Regions from separate parts of the Homo sapiens genome. Here region 1 is linked to region 2. The links come from fine-mapping of genetic effects on gene expression. A gene starts in region 2. The other region holds a variant in brackets. All regions are shown on one strand. Distances are from middle to middle. Region 1 has its middle 37 kb from the start of TUBB8. Region 2 holds the start of ZMYND11 (zinc finger MYND-type containing 11).

Region 1 (2,898 bases), 50 kb after region 2:
TTCTGGTGGTGCTGTCCTTTGGAGGCACCTTGGAACAGGGGTGCAACAGAGTTAAGGAAGTGCCATCTGTTGCATGGATACCTTGCTGCCACTCTTGTCCACCTTCCTGGGGTAAAATCCTGGGATGGGTCTTTATTTAAGAAGACAAAAGGGAGAGAGAATGCATAGAGGCCAGGAGCAGTGGCTCATGCCTGTAATCCCAGCACTTTGGGAGGCCAAGGAGGGGGTGGATCACTTGAGGTCAGGAGTTCGAAACCAGCCTGGCCAACATAGTGAAATGCTATCTCTACTAAAAATACAAAAAAATTAGCTGGCTGTGGCAGCAGGAGCCTATAATCCCAACTACTCAGGAGGCTGAGGCAGGAGAATCGCTTGAACCCAGGAGTTGGAGGTTGCAGTTAACCAAGATCACACTACTGCACTCCAGCCTGGGCAACAGAGGGAGACTCTGTCTAAAAAAAAAAAAAAAAAAAAGAATGCATAGAAGTTGTCTGTGTGACCCTGGGCAAGTCATTTCCCCTCCTTCCCTCCTTGGGAGTCAGCTCCTTGCCTGTGAACGGGGACAGTGCTTCTCCCTTACAAAGCTGTTGTGAGAATTAAAGTAGAAAATGCACCTGTGGTGGTTGTTGGTAGTGAGTGGTTCCCCCAATCCTGACTCCCCTGCAGGATGAGGCCTGGGCCCAGGGACAGGGGATGGGCTGGCAGAGGATGCCCGTCCTAGAGAGGAACCTTCTTGGCAGACGTGGAGACTTAGCTAAGCAAGAGTCCAAGATCTAAGTTTGAGGGTGCATCTTACACCCTGCAGCCATGAGTCTGCAGCTGGGTCGAGTGGCCTTTCTAAGCTTCAGTTCCTTATCGGTAAAGCCTGGGCAGTGGTGCCCAGCGTCTTTCACAGGACACAGTGTGAGTGCAGATGGAGACCCGCTGAGCAATCTGCTGGGGTGAAATTCATGGGGAGCACCCCTCCAGAGAGGGATGGCTCGCACAGGGCCCTCAGCCCAGCCCCTTGCAGGCTGGACCTTGAAGAGTGAGGCTCTGAGGCGAGACATGAGCACCTGGTTCCTGGCCTGCACCTGCATCTGCACCTGTGTCTGCTCGGGAGTCTCTGTCTTGGGGGATGGACGAGGTGAGGGCTGGGCACTAGTGTCTGTATGAGGTGTGTGGAGAACTAGGGCATGTTTGGGGGACTGGTTTGTCCGA[C/T]GTTGAGACCCTAGGGAAAGGTTTGGCCCAAACTGTGCTGGGGCATGTCCTCTAGGGGTCAGCCTGGACCTCAGTCTCTATTCTCCCTACCTTTACCTTCCTACCTTCAGTCCCCGCAGCAACCCTAGTCTCCCTTCCTTCACCCTCTTGACGCCTCTCTAAGTCTGACTTGCCCGTGTACCATGGGTCAGAGCCCGCCACTTCCCAGGCCTCCCAGTGCTTCCCTGGGCAGATTCTGGGATCATTCAGTGGTGACTGCCCTGCTAGGGTGTCAGCTGTCAGATCCCTTCACAACCCCCCAACTCAACTCTGCCCTGAAGCACTCACGGTGGGCTCCCAACTGTCACTGTCTCCAGGACCAAGGGCCAAACTTCACCTGCCTCACCAACAACAATCTCAGGATCGATTGCCACTGGTCTGCCCCAGAGCTGGGCCAGGGCTCCAGCCCCGGGCTCCTCTTCATTAGGTGAGCGTGGAGGGCCATGCCCACCTGGACAGGGATGAGGGTGAGGTCCCCAGGATGGCAGCAGCTACACCACGACAGTGTAACAGCCCCGTGGTGCTGACACTTGCCCTTTCTAGCAAGCAGGCTCCTGGTGGCACACATAAGTGCATCTTGTGGGGCAGTGAGTGCACTGTCGTGCTTCCACCCAAGGTGGTGCTCCTGCCGTCCGACAATTTCATCATCACTTTCCACCACTGCACGTTTGGGAGGGAGCAGGTCAGCCTGGTGGAGCTGCAGTACCTGCCCTGGAGACACGGTATCAGCTATAGACCTGGGGCAGGGCCCCTCGCCAATAACATCCTGGCTGCCTGGGGGCTGGGGTCAGGGCCCTGCAGCCTGTGACCCCTGTGGCCCAGCGAGTGTTCTCAGTCCCTGCCAAGTGAGATCCAGGGCTGGGGGCAGGCTTGGCCCCTGGGAGAGGAGGGCACACATGGTTACTGCGGGGGCAGGGTTTTGTAGAAAATAAAGATGCAGGGCTGCTAGTTTGGGGCAGGGGCTGGCACTAGAGTTATGTGAAATGCACTTCAGCCATACCAGGAAGGACTCCAATAAGATGCTGGGAAGGACTTCCAGCAGCAGACTGTGAAGGAAAGGGAACACAAGATTTAGAAACCGCCTAGTCTAGCTGCAGAGGCCAGAGGAAGTCATTGCTGTCCTGTCCCGCCTGGGGCTTTTCTGGACCAGTCTCCCTGTGAGGTGCCTGGTCTGAGAGGGCCTGGACCATGCCCCACCCCTTGGGTGTGTTGACTGACACACCCAGACCCATGGGGCTTCAGCCTTAGGTAGATTCACTCTGTTCCAGTGAAGCTGGACCCGCTCTCTGACTTGCAGAGCATCCTGACCTGGAGCATCAGTCCTGCCTTGGAGCTGATGACCACACTTCTCAGCTATGAGCTGGGCTTCAAGAGGCAGGAGAGGTAACACTTTGACTGGCTTCCCCTGGGGTCCTCTCTCCTGGGAGCAGCAGTCCAGGGCAGACTCCCCACTCTAAACAAGGAGATGTCAACTTGGAGTGATGAGGAGGGGAGGAACTGGAGCCAGGTGTGTGTGTGAACACACACGTGCTGACATGCACCTGTGTGTGCTTTGTGTGTGTGTGTGAGTAGGGTGAGTGTGCCTGTGTCTCTGTGAGTGCGTGCACATGAGTGTGCATGTATGTATGTGTGCACACACGTGTGCACTGAGGCTGCTCA
Region 2 (2,898 bases):
ACACACCATATATGACCCCAAGTACTGTGTGCACACAGTATATGACACCTGGTACTATACACACCGCATATATGACACCAGGTACTACATACACACTGTATGTGACAACAGGTAAGGTAAATATATTCAATACTATCCAGATACTACATACACTCGTATATAACATGGAGTACCACACGCACAGCTCATATGGCAGCAGGGTACCAGGCACCTACTGCACACAATACCGGGGGCTGAGTGCACAGCCTAAGCGAGGAAGATACATGTACACACCGTGTATGATAGCCGGTACGACACCGGGTACTTCGAGCACACTGCATATGACACAGAGTACACACCATATATAATCCCCGGTACTGCGTACCCACCGCATAGGACACCGCACTGCACAACGAGCACTGGTACACACGAATAAAACAGGTACGGCGGTCACTCTGCAAAAGACACCGGGCACGGCGCACACATCGCCAGCTCCTCCTCCTCCCGGCTCGGGAGAAAAGCGCGAGGAGAGACTGCAAGTGAAAGTCCGGGTCCCGGCGCCCCCCCTCGTCCCAGCCGCGTCCTCAGCAGCTTCTCCCCGGAGCTCTGGGTGGGAGGAGGGCGGCGGACCCCACAGGACTGTCCCGGAGGTCCGCGAGGACCTGTTGAGGCGGCGGCCTCGCTGCCGGGGTCGCTCACAGCCCCGGGGGACCGACGAATCTCCGCCCCGGGCCTCGGGGCCAGCCCTGCCCGCCGCTCCCGGGCTAGCACACGACGTGCCGCGCCGACAAACGCTTCCTCTCCGCCCGCCACACGCCCGGAGCCGCGTTCCCCGCCGGCCCGGACTGCGCACGGGCCCAGGAGGCCTGACCGAAAGCGGGGCACAGGGCCCGGCGGGCGGTGCTCACGCGACTCCGCGGCTTCCCGGCCCGAGCAGGCCCCGCGCGGTCCTCCGGGGCCTCATCCCGGGGCCTCTTCCGCGGCCGCCCAAGGCGAGTGGGCGCGGGCCGGCAGCCTCCGCAGGCCCCGCCGCCGCCCTCGCAGGCCCCGCCGGCCCGGCCCGCCCCGCCATCCACAAAGCTCCCCGGCAGCTCGGAGCTCTTCGCGAGCGGGCGAGCGACCGTCAGCACCCACTGGTGCCGCCGCCGCCCCAGAGGCCGCGGCCAGGCAGGCTCCACCGCGCGGGCCGCGCCATCTCCACGGACGCCCCCGCCCGCCCCGCCGCCCCGCCGCCGAGCTTTCCCCACCATTATGCTCCGGCTCCTCCACCGCCGCCGCCGCCGCGCCCGGCCCTCCCCTCCGGTGCCGCCTCCTTCCCGCCGCCCGGCGCCTCTCGGGCCTGAGCCGGCGACGGGCGCGGGGGGCGGGGGGGACGCTCAGGCCGCCTCCTCCTCCTCCCTGCCGGCCTCCTCCCTCCTCCCCGGCTCCCCCCCGCCCGGACCCCGCCGCCGGCTCCGCGCGAAGGGCTCCGGGCTCGAGGGGCGCCATGTTTGTAATACTCCACCTCAGAGAACGCCGCGGTCGCGCCTGAGCGAGGGAGGCTAGGCGGCCGGGTCGCCGCGTGCGGGGTGAGGGCCGGGAGGGCACCGCCGCCCGCACTTACTCGCGTCTTCCCCTGGCGCCGCGGGCCTGCGGGGCCGGAGCGGGCGGCGGGAAGTTGGGCGCCGCCGCCCGGGAAAGTTGGGTCCCCGCGAAGCCGCGGCAGCCGCTCACATGGCGATGCGCGCGGGGCGGCCGCTCGGCCCCACCGGCCCCTCGGCCCGCCCGCCCTCGGAGTTTATTGTGTCGGGTCGAGGCGCCCCGCGGCCGGGCCGCGCACTGGGGGCTCTAGCGGCTGGCGCCGGACTTGCGCGCGGCCGGCCCGGCTCGCGGCCGCCTCCCGCCCGGGGCCGGAGCCGTGCACGCGGCTCCTACCTTCCCCACGTCCTGTCTTCGGCGCCTCTATCCGAAATTTGTTGGAGCATATTCCTCTGTCTCCACACATGCACTCCGTATCCACACACACGTGAAGGCTACGTACGTGCAGGCGCGCTGGAGCCGGGAGCGGGCGCCGAGGCCGGGGCGCGAGGGGGCATTGTCAGGCGCCGCCGCAGCTCAGCCCCGGGTGGACCCGGTGCCTGCCCCTGGCTCGCGGGGTCCGGAACAGCGAAGTCTGAGAAGTACGAGTGCTTCTCTTAACAACATTGTTTAGGTAGTCTGAACAGCCCTTTACTCCTGTCATCAAAAAGAGCGGTAGGGATACGCTAAGTTCCCCGTTTCATCTCTGCGCAAACAGGACCGCGAAAAGAACAGGACCACCCATCAGCAGCCCTGCAAGAACACTGCAGATTTGCGCGAGAAGTAGGTTATCTTCTATGGAGAGGAATTCTAGACCTAATCAGAGACGATCCCTTAAGACTCTGGTTTAAGAAAGGTTCGGAGATAAGCATACTTTGATAGCGTTCACCTGTTTTCCCTGAGGACCTTTCGCCACTGGGAGTCGGGGAACACCTGTCAGTCAGAGTCCTCTGCTCTGAAATTCGGTGAGTACAGGACAGCAAGGTGTTTTCAGGGAGACCGCATTCTCATAACTTTTACTACAGTATAGTGTTATAATTGTTCTGGTTTATTATTAGTGTTGTTAATCTCTCATTGTGCCTGACTTCTAAATTAAACTTTATTATAGGCAGGTGTGTATAGGAGAAAACGTAGTGTAAGTAAGGTTCAGCACTACCCCGGGTTTCAGGTATCTATTGGCCGTCTTGGCACGTGTCCCCACCTGAAAAGTCATTAGGAAGAGACGGTTGTAGGAATTTGGGGATTCTGATAAAATATATCAATCTGCTTCTACAGCTGGTTTCTAAGACTGTTAGAATTTAGAAATGGGTGGTACTTGAATAGGTCTGTGATATACACTAGTCAAATAAACACAATCTTTCA

Evidence for each region. PIP is the estimated chance that this variant, and not a neighbour inherited with it, causes the effect. A credible set is the group of variants that fine-mapping cannot tell apart.
Region 1: its variant is the best candidate, but not a certain one, in a credible set for the expression of ZMYND11 in whole blood (INTERVAL, PIP 0.66).

The regions. Positions count from the first base shown.
Region 1 is chr10:84,356-87,253 of GRCh38, reverse strand. It overlaps the pseudogene IL9RP2. Among named protein-coding and RNA genes, the nearest start is that of TUBB8, 37 kb to the right of the region's middle. The variant C/T (reference allele first, on the strand shown) is at 1,201.
Region 2 is chr10:133,888-136,785 of GRCh38, reverse strand. ZMYND11 (zinc finger MYND-type containing 11) reads right to left here and starts at 1,331. Exons shown (of 15, transcript NM_001370100.5): 1 at 1,227-1,331. RefSeq lists silencers at 1,904-2,082, 530-2,089.